6 linked regions of the Homo sapiens genome follow. The protein of the gene in region 5 purifies or fractionates together with the protein of the main gene of each other region. This does not show direct contact. Each region holds a gene or a part of one and is shown on either strand. Other genes may lie near its edges.

Region 1 (4,223 bases), on a different chromosome or scaffold from region 5:
ATTAGAGGTCAAAAGGAAGGGTATCATCTAAGAAATGAATCTATAGTAAATAAGATGCTACTGTATGAACAAGGGGGATCAGCTGATGACAAAACAGGACAAAATCAGCGAACAATTTTTACAAGAAAATTGTATTCTAAAGAGGCAGGTGTATTCTAAAGAGACATTATATATTAATAAAAAGAATTTGAGCTCTAGGGATGTAGAGATACCTGGGTTTAGATCCTGACTTGGGCAAGTACACTGTATAGTAAAATTTCCTCCATTCTAAGAGAGCTATTATAATATTATAATAATATCTTCCTATGATGTGATTTATATCTGACTAATATATCAAAACTCAGGCTTGCAATAATCTCTTAATTAAACCTTGCTTTTGAAAGATGGTCTTACAGTCAAGCACATAAGTAAAATACACTAGTGCACCAAAGATAAATTTCCTTCTTAATGTAACAAGCACACTTAAACTACCTTAATCACTGGGGCCCGCCTAACTCCAGAAATATAGAAAATAATTTTAACATATTATGTATGTTTATCTCCTACAGAAATGTAACCATTTTTCCATGATTCTTGTCTCTTGCTTGAAGTATATTTAAATTTTCTATACTTTGAGAGTAATGAACTACCTATCTCTGTGGTTCTCAAAAATGGTAACCCTTTTATATCAAGTGTATAAGTTCAGATGTTATATATACTGCATCAGGACTGCTAAATAAGGAGGATCTAGGGACATATCTTTAACAAACAACTCAGTCAATTACTACCCACATTATAAAATAAGAAATTACTTGTCAACAGAAGAGCCAGTCTCTTGCTTGAGAACATCCGATTAAAGAGATAAGCTTGGCCTCAAATATTGGCCTTTTTAGCACTAAATTCTGACCACTGGGGTCATATACCTTAAGATAGAAAATTACTTTAAACTATACTGATATTGATTATGTAAAACCATTTTACCATCCAGGCTTGCTGAGATTATACATAAAACATAACATTCATCTCTAAAATAGCTAATCAAAAGTACTTAAAATGGATTCTTAGGTATGCTCAAATCCAAATCTTTAATCTTCAGTTTTCTTTATTTGCTTCAGAAGCATAGCAAATAATTGCATTTAAAAAAAATCTTGTTAGCCTGGTAATGTTTAATAATCCCAGAAATATAATTTAAATATTCTATAAAATATGTTTCTTTTGAAAAATGGGCATATAAATAGTAACATTAGACCACACAATGCATAGAATATAATAGTAATTACTCCCAAATAACTATACTCAAATGAACAGAGAGAGAAAACAATAGGCATTTGCAAATTTAATCATTTACCATGCTGGCCTAATTACTTGATACCTTTTTTTCTCTGTAGTGAAATATAACCACCTTACAATTAATAAAACAATAATGGTAACTTTCAACTGCAAAATGAGATCTTGAAATCTTAAGATGAAATTAAGATTGTTAAACTAACAGTGATGGAAAATAGCTGCCTTTTAAGTCCTAATTCAGTATTTATCTTAAGAAACACAATATATAAGTAAAATTTTCCTGCATTGATTACTTTGTATGAGTAAACAATGTTTTGTGTGCCAAAGTTTAACAAAATAATTATGTTATAATTTTTTTGCATAAAAGTTCCCAGAAAGTTGTTTTTTGTTTTTTGAGATGGAGTCTCGCTCTGTCGCCCAGGCTGGAGTGCAGTGGCGCGATCTCGGCTCACTGCAAGCTCCGCCTCCCGGGTTCACGCCATTCTCTTGCCTCAGTCTCCTGAAAGTTTTTTTATAGTATAGATTTGTAAAGAATCATCATTAACACACATATACTTGTATATAATTTCTAAGACCACAAGGCATAAATTCACATTTGTATATAATTTTCAAGACCATGTGAAATGGAGACCTTTTCATATAAAGCATATTCAGACAACTTAATGTTCATGTTGGCTTTTTAAAAAGTGAATGACTATTAGAGCAGTTGGACTAAAATGATTCAGACAAGGCCAAAAAAAAGACTAAATCTTGTTATACATTGCTTCTATTCAACAGAAAATTATTCAAAAATAAGCTATCTTTTACAGAAAGCATGGATTTAAAATAAAATTAATAGTCAAAATTATTTTAATTTTTTATAGATAGAAGTAAATATCGAGATAAAAAATCTTATGATAACTTCAGTTAGAATTCTGAATCAAATTACATATGAAAGTAACTTGCCTCTGTGGGATAATACGTTGTTTCAAAATTAGCATGGATTTAAGATTTCATAATATTAACTCTGTTTAATAGTTATATTGAAGACCCACTAATTAAATGGATTCTTAGGTATGCTCAAATCCAAATCTTTAATCTTCAGTTTTCTTTATTTGCTTCAGAAGCATAGCAAATAATTGCATTAAAAAAATCTTGTTATCATAGTAATGTTTAATAATCCCAGAAATAAAATTTAAATATTCTATAAATGTTTCTTTCAAAAAATGGGCATAAAATAGTAAGAAAGTAGTAAGAATAAAAACAAATTAGAACAACATTTTCTGTTAAAAACGTCAAAAAACACAAATGAAATTTTATAAATCAAGTTTCAAAAGAGTGAAAAGCTTTACAGAAATAAGCATTATACTCACATAGTCTCCACAAAACATTTTGATGGTAATTGTTAACCTCAGGGATGAAAATATTTGATCGATTGCATAAACTTGTTTCACTGTGAAGCCAGAAAGAATTAAGGTTCACTGTTAAATCAAATGTAAATATGTTCACTGTTCACCTCAGACTCAGGCAAGAAAATGTAAAAGCAAATCTGGATACAGCATGACTTGAGATACTGTATTTATACTTAGTTATCAGTCATAGGTGAGTAGGCAGAATTATTGCACAAAATAAGTAGAACCATTAACCTAATCCCCAGTTGTATGTTGATTTAAGACACATAAAGTAGCCAACTAATGAAAGAAATGTAATCTTTTGAAAAAGCTGATGACTTATGGAAAGCTAAGTTGATTACCCATAAAGTTAATCATTTATTTTCTGCTTAATTGTTGTTAACATGGAAACTCTTTCAGGTGCTCCAGCCCTAGTTTCCTATCTTAAATTGCTAGGTTCTATGTGTATCCATACAATTTTAAAAGAATATTTCAACTACTGTTTATCTGCTCTTATATTAAAAAATAATGTATTTAGGGGCTGGGCCTGGTGGCTCATGCCTCTAATCCCAGCACTTTGGGAGGCTAAGGCAGGCAGATCACTTGAGGTCAGGAATTCGAGACCAGGCTGCCCAACATGGCGAAACCCCGTCTCTACTAAAAATACACAAATTAAAAAAAAATTATTTTAAATATATTTAGAAAAGAATTCATTATCCACCAATAAAAGTCTTTGGAGAAATATATTCACCATCATTTTTGCACTTAATTTTCCTATATTTATATATATGTAATTTTAATATTAACTATTGCATTTTAAGGAAATAAATTTTAGAAAAACCTGTAAAGTTCAATATAGTGTTGGAAACTATCTAGATACATTCATATATGATTCCAAAAATAACAAAATGAATCTGTATTATATTATTTTACTGCTACTTGCTATTTATTGAACAATATAGTGTTCATTTATAAAAATTTTAAAATACTTTGAATAAGAATTAGGAGCAAATAATCCTTTATTGAAAGAACCAAATACTAACAAGACAAGTGTCAACTGATCAGCATCCATAGGTCTAGAACTACCCAAAATAATTCTGATGTTAAAATATGAGTAAAAGCCATGAAGCAGTATGTATTTATGTAATACACACACACACACACACACAAACACAAATATATATATATATAATGAGCAACTATATATATATATTCTTCAGCATTCAATTTATAATATTATCTGATTACCTTACCAGTATACCTGGTACTATGAGAGATATATGGAACCATGCTGCTTGGCTCAAAAACATTAAAATCTAGTAGGTCCTACTATGTATGTGTATGTGTCTGTGTATGAATCAGGGTCTTGTGTTTTTGCTATGTAGACAGCATATAGCAATTATAAAATTGTATAATTTATATTGTATAATTGCTATAATTGTATAATTTATATTGTATAATTGCTATATGTAGACAGCATATAGCAATTATAAAATAATAGATATACTTATTAAAACTATAGGATTCAGAATTAGAAACAAAAGAAGAATTTTCAACTAAAATTGTTTTTTAATTAGAAACAATAGA
Region 2 (3,500 bases), on a different chromosome or scaffold from region 5:
CACATGGTTTCTCTTCCTAATAAGATCTTTTCCTACATTTCATGAGACTCAATTTTCAAAATTAAATTCTCATACAATCTCCCAGAAATACCCTGTGGCGGGTTTTTTTAGGTCAGCGGCTCCTCTGGCACCTGAATTGTTTATTTGCTTCCGACTGGTGGCTGCTCCTGGCTGCCCCTCGTGGAGCGGGGAGTGAAGGAGGGAAGCGTGTGGTGACTCTGCCCGTTTCCTTCGATCCCACGCAAGCTCCCACACCACCGCCACTGTTACGCCTCAAGGCACCTGTCCCTGCTCCTGCCCTCCACAAGCTCCCAGAATTAAGCCAGAGAGGACAGAGGCCAGTTTACACAGGGCAGGTGAACTGGCTGCAAATCATCTGTGAAGTTTCTGATTGGAAACAAACTCCTAAAAATCGAAAGAGCCCTGGGCCCCAAGTGAGGAGCTGGAGAGACGTCCACGTGGCCAGTCGGGCACCCTGAAGAATAAGCCGTGCCTTTGGGGAGCGGCTGGGGAAGGCTCGTTCCTCGGCTTTTGTTGTCTCCCCTGCCTCCAACGGATGTGCCTGGAAATTCTCTGGTAACCTGGCCCTTGTCCTTGGGGACTCGCTGGTCCACTGCTCCCTGTTTTGTAAATAAAGTTTTATTGGAACGAGGCTATGCTCACTGGTGCATCTATTTTCTATGTCTGCTTTCCAGCCACCGTGGCAGAGGGAGTTGCTAACAGAGACCCTGTGGCCGCAAAGCCAAAAATGTCTACTCTTGGGCCCTTCAAGAAAAAGTTTGCCAATCCCCGGTATAAACAAAATAGCAATGACAGAAAGAGCAGCTCTGAGGGTGCCCTCGATGTGCAGGAACGTCCTCAGTGCACCCGTGGAGGGACTCGTTCAGTAACGTCAACCCCACGGAACGAAGCTCCATGAAGGCCTCCAACCCCTGGAGGACACCCACGACCTAAGAGTCGGTCAGAAAACGTTAAGAAAGAATTTATTCAAAACCCTTAGAGTGCCTGGGCGTGGTGGCTCACGAGGCCTGTAATCCCAGCATTCTGGGAGGCCAAGGCAAGCAGATCACCTGAGGTCAGGAGTTCGAGACCATCCTGGCCAACATGGTGAAACCTCATCTCTACTAAAGATACAAAAATGACCCAGGGCTGGTGGTGTGCACCTGTAATCTCAGCTACTCGGGAGGCTGAGGGCAGGAGAATCGCCTGAACCCAGGAGGCACAGGCTGCAGTGAGCTGAGATTGCGCCACTGCACTCCAGCCTGGGCGACAGAGCAAGACTCTGTCTCAAAGAATAAAATAAAAATACAAAAAACCACAAAAACCCTTAGGGTGACTTCACCGCACATTTTTTGCCACCAGGAGTTACACGCCCCAATGGGTGCTGGTCCCTTCCACCTGTCCCCCCGAGAGGAGCCACGTTCACCCCAACAGTGCTGCTGCGGCGCCTGGGAAGGGCCTCCACGGCCTCTGTGGGTTCATCCTAACTTTAAGCTATCACGGCCCATAGGACGGGGACAAAGCCAATGCCATTTCCAGAGAAAATAAAGAAATACATGAATTCTAGAGAAAAGCATCAATACAATGCCTCAGGAGGCTGAGAGAATTTGGGGGACATTTAAACACTTAGAGAGGTAGAGGCGGAGGCCGCTTCCCCTTCTTCTCCAGAGAAAAGCCAATCACGGGAACTGTGCTGAAAGCCAGTTCTCTCTGCCCAAGGCCTAGGACCCAGGCAGCTTGCTGAGGAAGGAATTTATTTAATTTGCAACTGCTCAAGCTGCAATGATGGTGGGGTTTTTTTGTCTACAGAAAAACCTTAATGCTACTTTTGACATTTCTTCAGAGCAAAAACCCACCAGGACAATCTGGTGTCAATTCACTCTAAGGCGACTCTGCGTGACACAAGCTGAGCTGGCTGCTGACAAGATGCCTGGGACCATGGCTGAGCATGCTCCGAGCCCACTCCTCTCCTCACGCTGGTGGTGTGCACCTGTAATCCACATGGGCTCGGCCCACTTGGGTGCCCCACAGGCGCTGTCCTGCATAGAGGCTCTCAGGCAGGGGCGCAAGGCCAGGCCAGGGGCGTGTGTGGCTTCACCCGTAGCCCCTCAGTGACACACACAGTCCTGACCCCAAGGGATGCTGGGAAGCACAGCCTGGGGGTGGGGGTGGGGGGCTGAAGGTGCCCCTCCATGTCCTGGTAGCCACACTCGCCATGTCGTGGCCTGGGGGGGGCTGAGGCTGCCCCTCCGTGTCCTGGTAGCCACACTCGCCATGTCGTGGCCTGGGGGAGGGGGCTGAGGCTGCCCCTCCGTGTCCTGGTAGCCACACTCGCCATGTTGTGGCCTGGAGGCGCTGGGGATGCCCCTCCCTGCTCCCTGTCCTGGCATTAACGCTCCTCTCATGTTTGCAAGGGGAGAGGAGCAAGCAGAGCCCAGATGGGAGGCGGGAGGCGGGAGTCATGAGACACGTGCCCTCGGGGCTGTTTTTCTGAGACAAGATCTCACTCTGTCACTCAGGCTGGAGTGCAGTGGTGTGATCATGGCTCACTGCAGCCTCGACCTCCCAGGCTCAGGCAATCCTCCGGCTTCAGCCTCCCGAGGAGCTGGGACCACATGCTTGCACCACCACCGCCAGCTAATTTTTAAATTTTTTGTAGAGAAAGGGTCTCGAGATATTTCCCAGGCTGGTCTTGAACCCCTGGCCTCAAGTGATCCTCCGGCCTCAGCCTCCCAAAGGGCTGGGATTACAGGTGTGAGCCACTGCACATGCCTGTCCATGATACTTAATCAAATACACAAACGTGAAGAACGCCAGCAAAAATGGATTCATCAACAACCAAAGACAAAGTGCAGCTCTCAGGAACCAGGCGAGACGCAGACCGCAGCCGGATCCAGTCCCTGACCCTGCCCTGGAACCGGCACCATCCAACAGACATGGGAAATGGAGGGACAGTGGCCGCAGGGGGATGCTGGAAGCTCACGAAACCTCCTAGGGGGCGGCCGGGGGCTGAGGGAAGCTCACAAAACCTCCTAGGAGGTGGGCCCTGTCCTTGGTGCCGCCCCCTCCTCGCCACTCCCCCCACCCCTTCCAGGAATGCAAGGTGCCCGGCTCAGAGGGAGGAACCACAGCCCTCTCCTGGAGGCACAGGAGACGCTGCCCTGAGAGTCAAGAATTAACCAGATGGGTCCGGGCGGGCCACCACCATGTGTGTACAGAAAGTTCTGGTGGAACACGGCCACACGCGTCCCTTCACGCAGTGTCTAAGGCTGCTTCTGTTTTAGAACGCATAGTTGCCACAGAGGCCGCATGGCCCACAAAGGTGGAAATATTTACTGCCTGACCCTTTAAGACAACCTTTGCTGACCGCTGGTGTGGCCCTCAGTAAGCGTCAGTCTCCAAGTCCCTCTGTGTTAACGCACTTGACCCCATCACCAGGAAGTAAGTTCAGCTCTCGCCATTTTACAGATGGGGAAGCCGAGGCACAGACAGGTTAGGGG
Region 3 (3,500 bases), on a different chromosome or scaffold from region 5:
TCTGTAGCCTGAAAATAAAACCTCCAAAATGAAAGTCTCTGGAAATGTTTTGACATAAGCAGGATGTAGGAAAAGCGTGTGCATTATCACATAATTCACAGGATCCACCTACGCCTCTTGAAAACTGGAACAATTTTTAAAGAAAATGTTGATTCTATAGTTTAAATTTAGATTGTTCCACTCCCCCACCCCTGTTGAAAAATCCTTGAGCTTATCTACACAAAGCCTGAACTTGGTGCTCCAAAGCTTAGCGGAGCAGAAGAGCCCCTTGTTCCAGACACCTCCCCCTGAAGCAGCCTCCCACAACTACAACTTAAGGCCAAAAAGTAGACATTAGCAATTTTCTTAAAATGCATGACATATGGTGCTATTACTATTATTTTGTGGTTCTCCTTTACTCATTTCTAACTTTCCTAAGTGCATTACCAGCTACTAAAGCAATAATTAGGAACTCGTGTCCAGATTATAATTTCACTGTGCTGAAATGAAAAAAGAAAATCAAAACGTATTATGTGTGTTTCAGTCATAACTAATAGTTGCAAATAAAATACATTGTTCACTTAAATTTAAAAATATCCTCTTAAGACTCCAAGGAGAAATCCTTCTCCAAATTCACTGGAGTGGGCCACATGTAGAGACACATTATTTACCTTTTTAACTTCTGTGGTCACGTGTGCAGCACTACTTGACTAATAACTTCTTCCAACTGGGTGGGTTCTTTAGTTTCTATCTTATCTATTAATGAAGCAGGTCTAAAGATAGTCAACATTCTTGACATTCTCTCCATTATGGAGCAACCACATTTGTTGGTGCCTCTTTCGGTACAGCTCTTGGTGCCAGAGTTTAAATGAAAAATAGTAACACATACAAGTGGACAAATAAAACAAAAAGGAAAAGGCAGGTCATCTACCAGAAAGGAACCACAGCTAAAGTGGTATATCTTTAGCTTTAATTAAAGGTATATCATACCTTTAATGAGAAAGCACAACACTTAAAAAACATTTTAAAGACATTGACTAAGGATCTCTAAAAGATTTATGTGACCACTTTGTATTAATTTTCTTTTTTTTGGGGATGGAGTCTCACTCTGTCGCCCAGGCTGGAGTGCAGTGGCGCAATCTAAGCTCACTGCAACCTCCGCCCAAGGGTTCAAGCAATTCCCTGCTTCAGCCTCCTGAGTAGCTGGGATTATAGGCGCTCGCCACCACGCCTGGCTAATTTTTGTATTTTTAGTAGAGACGGGGTTTCACCATCTTGGCCAGGCTGGTCTTGAACTCCTTACCTCATGATCCACCCACCTCGGCCTCCCAAAGTGCTGGGATTACAGGCGTGAGCCACCGTGCCCAGCCTGTATTGATTTTTAAAATACAGCTCACGGATTCTCTCTGAGCAAGTTGAATATCATTGAAATATATTTCAATAAATGAAATAGTTATAACCCCTCAGCTTCATAATCTGCATGCTTTGCTTATTCTCAGACTTCCAATATCTTCCACTCCAGAAGAGGAGAGAGGATTACTAGAGCAGCTAGGCTTTGAACACGTTCCAAAGTTTTACCCCCACTTACAAAATAAATGTCTTGCCCATAGCTTCACCACTATCAGTGCTAAAGTTAGTTGGGAATTTAGATTCCCTAATAACTCTCCTTTTTCTTTATCCATTCATGCTAGGTAAGGCAAAGTTTTAAATGAGGCTATTTGTGGGTGAGACACATGGCAAGTATTAACAAGTAAAACTGCTTTTTCTTCAAAATTTTAATTTTTTCACTAGGCAATGTGTGTCTAGAAGAACCAGGCAGCTTATACAATTTAGTTCTTCTCCACAAGTAAAATAATAACTTAATATTAGCTTATTCTTGTGGGAACCAAATATCCTTAAATCCCTATCAGTCTCAATTACCTCAGTCTCAAAGCTGCAAAATTCAGAGTCAGGGAGTGCACACTGCGTGAGATGAACAGTGGTAGAATCAGGTAGGACAATGTTTCCTTATTATTTTTTAAGGCATTAGGGAAAAACAAAGGTCATGGGAAGGGTGAATGATAAATACGGCATTTCCTCAATCAACTACAGTAATCTTCCCACTCATCTGGGCATTGGGCACACACTTCCTACTTTTTCAATTAGAAAGTTCAGGTCACTTCCCCCCTCCCAGAGGACTGGGAGTGATTAATCCTCACTCTCATCATGTTCCATGTAAGGGCACCCCCGCCCCTTTGAGCATCTCTGAGGAAAGGTACAATGGAAACTCAACGGATTACACTATTTTCTAAAGGGCCACTCATAAAAATGAAGTTGGGTTATGGTTTTTTTTTTTCCCCCTTCCATTCTAATTTAGGAAGTGGAAAGTCACAGCAAGGGCAGGGGCTTACCCACGGTGACACAGCTTAGCACAGCGTCATCATTTCATCCTGTGCTTCCCATGGATTCTATCCTCTCAAAGATTAACTAAGCATTTTGCTATTTGATCTGGGTAGAGGGAAAAGGTGCCCAAGACATGAGAAGATAAAATTCTTGACAGGAGGAACCAAGGTTAAAACATGTAACAAGGTTCACTCACTTAAAAATATATACCGAATCCTCACAGTCCTCACAATGAGTGAGACATCCCCGAGACTTGCTAGAGCTGAAGATGTTGCTTCCTCTTTTTTGGCAATTAGCCATTTAATGGGGACAGGGTTGGGGATAGATATGACAGATTTAGAAATTATCCCAAAATAAGCAGGATCTTCCATCCCAGAGGTATATTGCTTCAGGTCTGCATAAGCTATAGCCACCGCCAAAGGCCTTCATACCCATCCCAAACACCAGCCTCCAACAGGGCAGGATGCGAAGGCTTTCTCAACCTGCATTTTTCCCACCATATCAGCACAATGTCCCATGGCCAGCAGGGAGCTCAGAATTCTTGAGACTTCTGAAATTCCTGCTGAAAAAGTTTAGAGGGTACTTGAAAGTTCAAGACCCACCATTCCCTCCAGACAGGTCTGCTAATGGTGTTGAGTCTGCCAATTTATTCTAGTGTTGCCACATGCTGGCTACATGACCTTTGCCTGTCAGCCTTAGTTTCTTCATTCCTAAAATGGGAATAACACTTGGTATAACTATTAAAGAACCTAGAGAAGGCATTTTCATAGTCTGATTAGTCAAGAAACCATTAACTCTGAAAAATAAAACACCTTAAAAACTGGACTATTTCCAAAGCCCACAGACAAAAGCTTTTGACGGGCAAGAAGGGCCAGAAGGATGGCAAAAGGAAGTGCCCCAAATGCAGCCCATTTCGGAGTTGCCAAGAAGATTGTAGAAACAACACCTCTGGACATGATTTGGCAAATACCACTTTAGCAGGAAAGTTGTGTGATGGACTCTGACCTTGCTGGTTCCCTAGAGGCTGCCAAGTCTGGGCTACCTTCAATGTAAAAGGTAAGGGGGAGGGGTGCTTTCTCATTTTCCTGGTCGATACATTATTAAATCATCCAACACAATTGTGTATGTAAAAGTATTCT
Region 4 (3,500 bases), on a different chromosome or scaffold from region 5:
GCCTATAATCCCAGTACTTTGCAGGTAGATCATTTGAGGTCAGGAGTTCACGACCAACCTGGCCAATACGGCGAAATCCTGTCTCTACTAAAAATACAAAAATTAGCCAGGCATGGTGGCAGGTGCCAATAATCCCAGCTACTTGGGAGGCTGGGGCAGGAGAATCGCTTGAACTCAGGAGGTAGAGGTTGCAGTCAGCCGAGATTGCACCCCTGCACTCCAGCATGGGCCACAGAGCGAGACTTCATCTCAAAAAAGAAAGAAAAAAAGACCAATAACAGCTAAGACAAACATATTTAAGCATGCGTTCCGTTTATGTTATAAAATTACAAAATTAATCTTGCCAATGTATTCAACAGTATCTTCAAATATGGATTAGCCCAGTTCTTATTATTTAAACCATTCATAAATGCGAAGAGTCTTTGGGCTGAGTCCTCTGACTTAACACAGGACACCTAGATTCCAGTCAAGTGTATTACACTGGTCTTTATAATGTGCTTACAACACAGCAGAAACTGTATCATCTGTGAAGCTAAAATTTAGTATTCAATTCCAAAAGATCTCTGAGAACTCCTGAACTCATGCCATAAAACCACCTTGTGGCCTGCTAATGTTTTGGCCATTAATACCTAAAGCAGGACCAAGAAGAAGGAAGTCTATTTTGTCTATAAAAACACTTGAGTAACTGAGCGAGTAGAAGACAACACCATGCTCAGCTCAGTCTACATTATCACTCCCATTCAACAGGTGGTGAGCCTAATGGCAGGACAAGCATCTACTGCAAGCCACACCCTATGCTACGTTCCCTGGAAAGACGCAAAAGGTCTTGGCCCTTCAAGGCTGTGAAATCCACCATGACAAAAATCTTGTGATTTTTTTTTTTTTTTGAGATGGAGTCTGGCTCTGTTGCCCAGGTGGGAATGCAGTGGCACAATCCCGGCTCAAGGAAACCTCCACCCCCTCAAGTGACTTGAGAAGAATCACCTCAAGTGATTCTTCTGCCTCAGCCTCCTGAGTGGCTGGGACCACAGATACCCACCACGACGCCTAGCTAATTTTTGTATTTTTAGTAGAGACGGGGTTTCACCATGTTTGCCAGGCTGGTCTTGAAGTCCTGACCTCAGGTGATCTGCCCACCTTGGCTTCCCAAAGTGCTGGGATTACAGACATGAGCCAACAAGCCCGGCCGATCTTGTGATTATTTACTATGTCCTAGATTACAATACATGGCCCTTGCCACCACCTCCCCACCGTGTACCTACAGCACAAAAGCTAATTAATCCTCACAGTTTTTCACACTGAGCCCAGACTTGACTCCACTGTCTTGTTCATCAAGACCCTCAAGGCAACCCTTAGCAATCAGGACTGGCATGTGAGATGAGACCTATACGCCATCCCAGTCTCAACACCATGAGATGCTCCAACGTCTACATACGCTAAAATGAGCTTGCAGAAAAGAGGTGGAGAAGGGCTGGGCACACAGCTAATGTCAGGCTTCACTGAAGGAAAGCCAGGACAGAGATAAACGGAGGGAAAAAGAACTCCAGGTTTGCAGCATGACATAAGGAAAATCGCTCAAGTTAAAACACACATGATGTGCTTGGAAATGGGGAGCATGCCTGGAAGAGTGTTCATTTAGAGAAGCAGCAAACCACGGCTAAAGAAGGAATCCGAATGGCATCACAGGAAAAAAACACTAGAGCAGGTAACTGTGGGCCATGCCCTTTTGTCACTTCGTTTCCCTGGACTTCAGCTTCCTTAAGGTAAGTGAATGAGGGAGTTAGATCAGAGCGGGGATGGGAATCCCTGGTGCCTGAGCCGAGGAGCCTTGCTTCCACTCTGAAACCATCTCAGCACATCTGACACAGCCAAACAGGCTGAGATCTAAGGCAGGGCTGCGATTCTCACTGACTAAAGCTATGATGGAGCTGCCTGCAACTGGCAATAAGGAGCTTTCTGCTACTCACCTACCTGCCTAAAATGTCTCTATTCATCATTGGTTAATAAAATAATAGAATACATGGTCTCTCACCCATCTCCTTAAATTCTTCATTGGTCAGTTCCAGCCATGCAGCATCCATGTCATTGAGGTCATAGCGACACACGCTGTCAGCCAGCGTCCGGATGTCCACATAGCCCAACTCGGGAGGCTCAGAGCCTGATGACACGATGTACTTCTTGGGCCTGATGAACATGAGGGATTTCTCTTCAGACACAACCCTGGATAATAAAAAAACAAGGCAGCCAGGTTACCCTTTCAGCCACAGACAATGAAGTGTGCCACAAGGCCCCAAATGTCTTCCTCTTCCAACCCTTAGAGCCCCAGGTCATCACCAGAGGCTGAAAACCTGAATGTCACTGCTAATAAAACCTTAACTAGAAGTTGTTAAAGCCTGCTAACAGGCAATAGATACAAATGAAAACACTGTAGAAGCCTTCAAAATCTGCTTCCCGGGACCCTGCTGTGCCCTGCCCACCACCTCTGACCACTCTGGCCTGCAGCCAACACCAAAACACACTGACCCATACATTTCAAGAGTTAGTCATTAAATCACTTTCCCTTAACCAGACCTGCCCATCCCTGCTGGAGGCCATTAGAACCAGGGCACCACACAGGCAGGGCAGGCGCAGCAGACTCTGAGAACCAGAGGGAGAAACCCGCCAACCCTCACACCTCACAAAAAAAAAGAGGGAGAGAGGGAAAAGAAAATCAGGCCTTGGGCTGGGGCAAGGTGGCCCAAGCCTGTAATCCCAGCACTTTGGGAGGCCGAGGCAGGCGGATCATTTGAGGTCAGGAGTTTGAGACCAGCCTGGCCAACACAGTGAAACCCCATCTCTACTAAAAATACAGAAATTAGCCAGGTATGATGGCACACGCCTGTAACCCCAGCTACTCGGGAGGCTGGGGCAGGAGAATTGCTTGAACCCAGGAGGCGGAGGTTGTAGTGAGCCAAGATTGCACCACTGCACTCCAGCCTGGGCAACAGAGTGAGACTGTCTCAAACGCAAACAAAAAAAAGGAAATAAGACCCCGGCCATTACCAAAAAATCTAAGAAACAGAGTCCCAGCCAAGAAGGGGACTGACTCTCCCAACATATACCCATGATCCCAGGAACAAAAGCACAAGTTTCTCCTCCTGGTACTGCCACACAATCTCTCCCGACCTTTAACACCTGGAGTGGTGCCTTCCAACTCACCCCACTCAAAATAAGACTGCATGTGCAAGAGCAAATCACTCCCGACTTGGAACCAAAAAAAGGCCATCTTCCTAATCACAGACCCCAGGCCTCAACAAAGTCCTTCCACATATGCATTTCCACAGTTTAAATTACTGTCAACAGGCTGCCCAGAGTCTGTCAGAGTACCTTCATCACCCTTATATTACGGGAGTGATTTTATCTACGTGACACTGACATGGACAAACTGAAGGGATTTATTTCTCCTACTCAGCCAAGAGCAGGGATCCAACTTGCTCAGGGCTCCAACTTTAATACAGCTT
Region 5 (3,500 bases):
CCGCGGCACCCCCACCTGCTCCCCACCCGCTCGGCAGAAGCCCCCCGCCTGAGGAGCCCGGGGTGAACGGCTGCACCTGCGGCCCAGCCTTAAGGGTCCCAGGCTCCCAAGCCACGTGCGGGACGGAGCACAGGTGTAGCAGCACTGAGGGCTGCCTGGCGAGGACGGCACCGCCTCCAAGTGCAGCTGCACTCGGGGCAGCAGAGCAGCAAGAGCCAGGCCCGGGGAGGGCGGGGGGCGCAGTTCAGGGGCCCAGCTTCCCTGTCCACTCCCCCCACGCCTGGCCCCTCCCTCACCCCAGTAGGGGCCTAAGCCATCAGCCCAGGTGAGGTCACAGTGAGGGCTGTTGGGGAGGAAGGGGGGCAGCTTGACTGGGGAGCTGGGGGGACCCCGTGCTCAGAGCCTGAAAGGCAGTGGCCCCCTCACCCCCTCATCCCTCACCTGGGGCAGCGTAGGTGTGCATGACATTGTGCTCCACCAGCACCTGGGCCACCGAGGGGTCTGGAACCGGGAAGGACTCGTTGTACGGAGGCTGGAACTGGTGGAGGGCCTGCTCCCCATCCCCAAAGGTCCACCTGCCGGGGCGGTGGGACGCAGTGAGTGAACCGGGACAGGGGTGGGCGGTGGCGGGGCAGGGGGTGCTTGGGACCCAGCCGAGGCTCCACTCTGCAGTCACGCCCCGGGCCTCCATTCAGGGCCCACCCGGCTGTGCTGAGGCCTCTCCCGGCTCCCGTGCAGCCTCAGGGCTCCTGTGCACCCAGTTACCTCCCAACAGACAGGGAAACCGAGGCTCAGAAAAGCAACCCCGTGATGTGGGGGTCCCTCGGCTGAGGCTGGGGCTGGGACAAGAGCCTGGTGCCCACCCCAAACCGGCCCCCGAGTCACTCACAGGAAGGCCACCTCCACGGCCGAGTCCACCAGCACGCCCGCCGTCAGTGCTAGCGTGGCATTGGGGGACAGCACGGCCGGCACTGTGGAGACCTGCAGACCCTGCATCCTGTTCATCCGCTCCACGGTTACGTTGTAGTTCACGGTGACGTTGCTCACGTGGTTGGAGGCCGTCAGCTGCAGGGACAGGCGTCAGTGAGCCCAGGTGGCAGGTGAGAGGCCTGGCCCTGATTGGCGTCCCTCCCTCCACTCACCCACAGCCATGGCAGCGTCCTCGGGCAGCATGAAGCAGAGCAGAAGGCAGAGGTGAAGGTGGAGCCCGCCCCCGCCCTGCCCCGCCCCATCCCCTCCCCTCCCCACCCCCGCCCACCTACTGAGAGCTTGAAGACCGCCGCGCTCTGATAAATGACATTGAAGACCACGTTCTGGAAGGTCAGGGACTGCTTGTCGTTGATGGTCCACCGGAAGACCATGTCCGAGCCGGCCTCCACCACGGGGCTGTACCTCTGCGGGGGGAATGGTGTCAGCCTGGGCTCTGTGGAGGACTCTGCCCTTAGCCTGTCGCCTCCTGGACACACCTCCCGTCGGGCTGGAGAGTCCCACGCGGGGCACAGAGGAGAGGAGGTGCCCGGGGCTCTGCATGCCATGGGAGCCAAGCCCGGGCTGGGACACTCACTGTCCGGCTCTCCAGCCAGCCATGTAGTACTACTAATGCCTCAACCTCTCTGTGCCTCAGTTTCCCCATCTGTAAAGCAAACCTAGTACCAGCTACAAAGAGTCCACCTCTCTCTGAGTCTTCTCAGACCCTCCCGGCGCTCTTGCCCCAGCTCCTCACCCAGAGAGCTCGGAGCAGTGAGGGGAGGCACCTACACTGGCTTACAGAACCCAGGACAGGCTGCACAGGTCACGCCATTTCTGATGGCCCCTCCCAAGGCCCCTGGTGAAGAGGCAGGTACCCGCAAGATGGAGACAGCCCTGTCCCCCATGTACCCAGCATGGTGGCACCGCGGGCAGCCCGCAGTTTCCCATCAGGGGTTCAGACTCCACCTCAAAAGCCACTCGCTTTAGCCAGGCGAGAACACAGCAGAGGGCGTGAGAGACTCACGGGGGCTCGTGTGAGGTCAGGGAGCAGAGTTTTAAATTCATTTTGTGAAATGAGACAGTGGAATGAGTTAGCGGAGCCACTGTCAGAGCCGTGACTTTCCAGGAATTTAAAGCCCACCAGGTAGCCCGAGGAGCCAGCCAGCAGGACCTGCCCGGGGCCGACGTCCCCAGTAACTGGGCTGCTGCCCTCACTGGGAAGCCAGGCCTCACGCCCTGTGTGAGCACCCTGTCTGCAGGCACCTGCCTGGGGGCTGGTGGTGGAGCCTCGGCCATACTCACCACTAGGACTCCCTGCAGTACACGGGCCTCGGGGCTGGGCGTGGCGCGGAGGCCACAGATGGGCTCCTCCGCCGTCACCCGCAGGCTGAGGTTGGCCCGGCTGGCGCTGTTTTCCACCACCACGTCCACCACGTGCTCCCCCTCACTGAGCCACGGCAGTGCTACCACTGAGAACAGGGTATCGTTGGTCTCCCAGGGGCAGCCGGGCACGAAGGTGGCCACCAGGGCAGGGCAGACATTCTCAAAGCGGGCGCTGACACTGCCCCCAGGCCAGCGAGCCGTGGCCGTGGCGTTGGCACCAGAGTCCACCTGGAGCACCAAGGCTGAGCCGTTGGTGGGCACGTAGAGGCGGCCGTCGCGGGGGGCAGGGTAGATGACCCGCAGCCCAGCCACTGGGGAGACCACGTCAAAGCTGCAGGAGAGGTTGTGCCTGGACACGCCATTGCCCACCTCTGCCCGGACCTCATAGCGCCCAGGCAGCCGCAGTCCAGGGTTGGGCCTCAAGCCCAGCAGCACGGTGAGCTGTTCCGTGGCTGCAAGCAGCCGCAGGGCACAGGCAGGGCAGGCCCAAGTGCCCTCCAGCTGGGCTGGCAAGTGGGGCAGCCATGACGAGGCGTTGGCGGAGAGGTACGGGGCCCGGGGACCAGGGTGGCCGGGAGCCGGCGAGCAGTGCAGGAGGGCGCCAGGGCCAGCGTCGTGCTGCAAGCCAACGAGGTCACCAGGGAGCATGAGGACATCCTGGCCGTGGAGGGTGACCTGTGGAGAGGGAGGCAGGGCTGCATCACGTCCTCACGGTCATGGCCCGTGGACCCCCGCACGACGGATGAGGGTGGACACGCAGGGCTCCCCGCTTCGTCAGCCACACCTCAAGGAGCCTCCCCACAGTGCTCGTGACAAGGACAGGCAGGACAGTTGCAGACCGGGGGACACACGGGGAGAGGACACAGGCCAAGACCTGGCAGACAGGAAGGAGCAGCTGTGCTGGGAGAGAGGAAGAGGAGGCACAGCTCGTGCCAAGGGCCCAGGCGAGAGCTTCTCCCACTGGGAGAGGGCCGAGGGCACTGCAGAGGTCGGAGGTCAGAGGTGGCAAGGACGTGGGAGGGGCCTGCAGGCTGGGTGTGTCTGGTGCACAGACCCAGACCCTGGGCAGCAGACAGGAAGGTGGCCTGAGGAGATGCAGGGAACAGACCCAGGTCAGGGCCACACACCGAGTACTGCGCGGGGGGCCC
Region 6 (3,500 bases), on a different chromosome or scaffold from region 5:
AGACACAGGTGAGAAGGGGGAAAAAAAGAAGAAAGGTGAGGGTGTGCCGGCCATCAAGGGCTTGTTCTGTGACTCTCAGTGCCTTCCTTAACCTCTGTGAGCTTTGGTCTCCTCTGGAAAATGGTGCTCATATTTCCTGTTTGTCCCCCTGCCTATCGACACCACAAGGAGGCTTATCTCAGCCCTGGGATGTGCCCCATGGGGCCACTACAATTGCTATCCTCATTGAACTGGACACAGGCAGCCTCTACCCCAAATCTTGCTGAGTTGAAGATAGGGGTTAAGAGGAGAAGCCAAGCCACTGGCCTGCTTTGAGCCCTAGCTCTGCCATTCCCATGCTGTGTGACCTTGATCAAGTGGCTTAACCTCTCTGAACTTCGGTTTCCCCATGTGTACAACAGAGACCTTTAGTGATGATTCTCTGAGACAACTCCTCCCTCCTTTTCCAGGAAGCCCTCCCTGCTGTCAAGTCAAGTCGGGGAGGACATGGGGCTTACTTCTTGTAGAGCAGGATAGCAATGACAATGCAGATTATGAAGACCACGGCCAGCACAGGCCCGATCACCCAGATAAGCCCCTCCTCGCCATCCACGATGGGCTGGGGGTCCGGGTTATCCAGCTGGAAGGGGTCTGAGAAGGGACTGGCTGCAAAGGTCTGCAGGGAAAGGAGGGGGGTCTCCATCAGTGTCCACCCTCCTTGTAGTGGCCAGATGGGTCTTTCTCAAACATGAACCTACGTTTCTCCCCCGCTCTAGATCCTCCTATATTCCTAGAACCTTGACCCTGGTGGCCTATGTGACCTGGTCCCTGCCAATCTTTGCTCTCCCCATTCCCTTCTCTGCTCCAGCCACTCTCCTTTCTGTACCTCCAGACCTTTGCACATGCAAATCCTGGGATGCTTTTTCTTTGTTGAACTCCTACTCACCCCTCAACGCCCCAGCTCCAAGGTCTCTTCCTCTAAGAAACCTTCGTTTCAGGATCCCTCCGCTCCCAAGTCTTCCCCTCTGCCCAGCTCTGACCACAGGGAGCTGCCTGTGACTGACCACAGAGGTCAGGGCCCTGGGGAATGGGGTCTGCCTCATTCAGAGGTGTGTCTGGATGTGGGCGGACACCATTCAGGACTTACAGGCTCGCTCTTCTGAAGCACGGCAAGCACGAAGAGGACATAGCGGTGGCCGGGCTCCAGGCCCCGGTTATCGAAGCCGCCATACTGCTTCTGGTCGCCGGGATGGAACGTGGGTGGCAGCACAGAGAAGCGAGCTGCAATATAGGGCCGGGGCACCTCCAGCTGACGCGAGTGCCGCAGGCTGCGCCTCTGTAGCCGTGAGATGTCCTGGATGAGCTGCGGGAACAGAGTCATGGGTGGCTCAGAGCTCAGCTGGGAGCAACAGAGCACGTGAAAACTGGAATGCATCTGGGCCCTGCGGGTTGGGCCCCAGGCCCTCACCTCTTCCAGATCCATGTCCTCTGGGCTACCCAGCGGGGTCAGGAATTGGCCTCCACGAGACTTGCGCAGTGGCACCATCACAATGAAATAGCTCCTGTAGGGAGATGGGAAAGAGTCAGAGGGGCTGTCGATAGGGATGACCAAGGGATGCTTCATGGGGGCAAACGGGGGAAGCCGTTTCTCTGAGTCTTCCCTTCTGTTCATACAATGAGCCTATTCCCCTATGCCCCATCCACAAACGCCACAGTTGCTGACTCAGGCCTCCAGGCCTTGGATGATGCTGTACTTTCTGCGTAGAAGGCTTACTTCATGTAATGCTCATTGTTAAACTCCTATACATCCTTCAAAGCTCCAGCTTCAATGCCCACATAACCTTGTAGCCCTTAAATCTTCTCTGCCTCTGAGGCAGAGTGCTCCTCTCCCCACTGGGGACTCTCAGCTTTGCCTCCCCACTAGTTGGGAAGCCCAGAACCAAATCCTTTCAGGGGCCCTAGTAATACCCAGTGGAGGGTCAGGCATATGGGGTATCAGGAAATGCTAGAAGAGCAGACACAGGACACATTTAGTGACAATGACCCATGAGAAGCATTGAATCTTGGATGACCCCATGAACTAGGGCTGATAGGGTCTGTGTTTCATAGGCAAGGAAATTGAGGCACAGAGAGGGCACGTGGCTTGCCCCAGCCATATAGTAGGCTGATGGGGGTGACAAGGAACCCGGAGCATGGGGGTGAGCATACTGGACAGGCACGGGGCTCTGGCCGTCAGGAAGATACACCATGATGAAGCCGTCAGCATCAGGCTTGGGGGCGACGCTGGGCTTGCCGTTGAGCAGGTTGAAGGCAGTCCAGGCGGTGACCGTCTGCTGGAGGCCGCCCAGGCTGCTGCCGCGATTGGTCAGCACAAAGTTGTAGAAGGTGTGGGGCTTGAGGTGCGTGATGAGCTTCTTGGTGGTACGGCCATCCACATCCAGTGTGAGCCCATTGTACTGGATCTGCGGACCAGGGCTAGCTCAGCAGGGCCTGGTGGGCTCATGCCCATGGACTGAGCCCCAGCTCCAGGATGAGTCCCCCACCCTGACTGAGCCCTGATCCCACTGAATCCTGCCCTAGGCAGAAATCTAACACTGACTGATCCCTGATCCCAGGCTGAGTCCCCAACTCTGACTGAGCCCCAACCTCACTGAACCCTGACCCCAGACTGTGCCTAAATTCCAGCTGAGTCCTGATCCTAGGTAGAAGCCCACTTTGACTGAGCCCTGATCCCATGCTGAATTCCCAGTCCCGACTGAGCCCCAATCCCACTGAACCCTGAACCCAGACTGATCCTGAATTCCAGCTGAGCGCTGACCCTAGGTGGAAACCCACCTCTGAGACCTGATCCTAGACTGATTCCTGATCTCAGACTGAACCTCAATCCCAGGCTGACCCCCGATCCCAGACTTGGCACCAACTCCAGACTAAACTCTGACCTCAGGCTAAGTACCAACTCTGAGTCCCAATCCTGATTATGCCTCAGTCCCAGCTAAGCCATGATCTAAGGCTGAGCCCCAACTCTGATTTCCAATATGGACTAAATCTTAATCCCAGACTGAACCTCAATCCCAGCTAAGCCACAATCCAAGGCTGAGCCCAACATTGATCCCCAATATTGACTGAACCTCAGTTCCAGCTGATCTCCAATCCTAGGCTGGGCCCCAAGTCTGATTCCCAGTATTGACTAAGCCTCAATCCTAGCTGAGACCCATCTCTGACTGAGCCCTGATCCCTCACTTCACACCAACTCCAAACTGAGCCTTAAGCCCTGCTGAACTACAACCCCTGACCCTGCCTGCCTGCCTGCCTGCTGGCTGGGCAGTCGCACCTTGTAGGGTGTGGGTGAGTTGTAGTTGTCAGGGAACTCCCAGCTGAGCAGAACTGATGTCTTCATGATCATTTTCACCTTGAAGTTCTTGGGCGAGACTGCCGGGGAGGCGGCCGAGCAGGGAGAGAGCAGAAGAGAGGCCCCATGAGTGCCTGGCACTGGGTGGCGTGAAGCGGGGTGGGGTGGGGCG

The links.
Region 1: the proteins of PKD1 (region 5) and ANXA10 purify together in Homo sapiens (affinity purification with western blotting; one study listed by BioGRID). This does not show direct contact.
Region 2: the proteins of PKD1 (region 5) and PRKCZ purify together in Homo sapiens (co-immunoprecipitation; one large-scale study listed by IntAct). This does not show direct contact.
Region 3: the proteins of PKD1 (region 5) and ATP1A1 fractionate together in Homo sapiens (co-fractionation; one study listed by BioGRID). This does not show direct contact.
Region 4: the proteins of PKD1 (region 5) and JADE1 purify together in Homo sapiens (affinity purification with western blotting; one study listed by BioGRID). This does not show direct contact.
Region 6: the proteins of PKD1 (region 5) and PTPRS purify together in Homo sapiens (affinity purification with western blotting, with the first as the bait; one study listed by BioGRID). This does not show direct contact.

The regions. Positions count from the first base shown.
Region 1 is NC_000004.12:168,091,114-168,095,336, reverse strand, and holds the start of ANXA10 (annexin A10), read right to left. Parts: upstream 2,801-4,223; 5' UTR 2,637-2,800; coding exon 2,619-2,636; intron 2,601-2,618; exon of another isoform or gene 1-2,600.
Region 2 is NC_000001.11:2,165,411-2,168,910, reverse strand, and holds part of PRKCZ (protein kinase C zeta type), read right to left. Parts: intron 621-3,500; coding exon of another isoform or gene 344-620; exon of another isoform or gene 1-343. UniProt on the Homo sapiens protein: Calcium- and diacylglycerol-independent serine/threonine-protein kinase that functions in phosphatidylinositol 3-kinase (PI3K) pathway and mitogen-activated protein (MAP) kinase cascade, and is involved in NF-kappa-B activation, mitogenic signaling, cell proliferation, cell polarity, inflammatory response and maintenance of long-term potentiation (LTP).
Region 3 is NC_000001.11:116,379,744-116,383,243, reverse strand, and holds part of ATP1A1 (sodium/potassium-transporting ATPase subunit alpha-1), read right to left. Parts: intron 1-3,500. UniProt on the Homo sapiens protein: This is the catalytic component of the active enzyme, which catalyzes the hydrolysis of ATP coupled with the exchange of sodium and potassium ions across the plasma membrane.
Region 4 is NC_000004.12:128,847,700-128,851,199, reverse strand, and holds part of JADE1 (protein Jade-1), read right to left. Parts: intron 2,221-3,500; coding exon 2,033-2,220; intron 1-2,032.
Region 5 is NC_000016.10:2,111,899-2,115,398, forward strand, and holds part of PKD1 (polycystin-1 isoform 1 precursor), read right to left. Parts: coding exon 3,480-3,500; intron 3,253-3,479; coding exon of another isoform or gene 3,137-3,252; intron 3,028-3,136; coding exon 2,272-3,027; intron 1,395-2,271; coding exon 1,263-1,394; exon of another isoform or gene 1,259-1,262; intron 1,168-1,258; coding exon of another isoform or gene 1,143-1,167; intron 1,066-1,142; coding exon 890-1,065; intron 576-889; coding exon 442-575; intron 1-441. UniProt on the Homo sapiens protein: Component of a heteromeric calcium-permeable ion channel formed by PKD1 and PKD2 that is activated by interaction between PKD1 and a Wnt family member, such as WNT3A and WNT9B. Both PKD1 and PKD2 are required for channel activity.
Region 6 is NC_000019.10:5,218,813-5,222,312, forward strand, and holds part of PTPRS (receptor-type tyrosine-protein phosphatase S isoform 1 precursor), read right to left. Parts: intron 3,409-3,500; coding exon 3,311-3,408; intron 2,442-3,310; coding exon 2,188-2,441; intron 1,542-2,187; coding exon 1,448-1,541; intron 1,343-1,447; coding exon 1,127-1,342; intron 656-1,126; coding exon 498-655; intron 1-497. UniProt on the Homo sapiens protein: Cell surface receptor that binds to glycosaminoglycans, including chondroitin sulfate proteoglycans and heparan sulfate proteoglycan.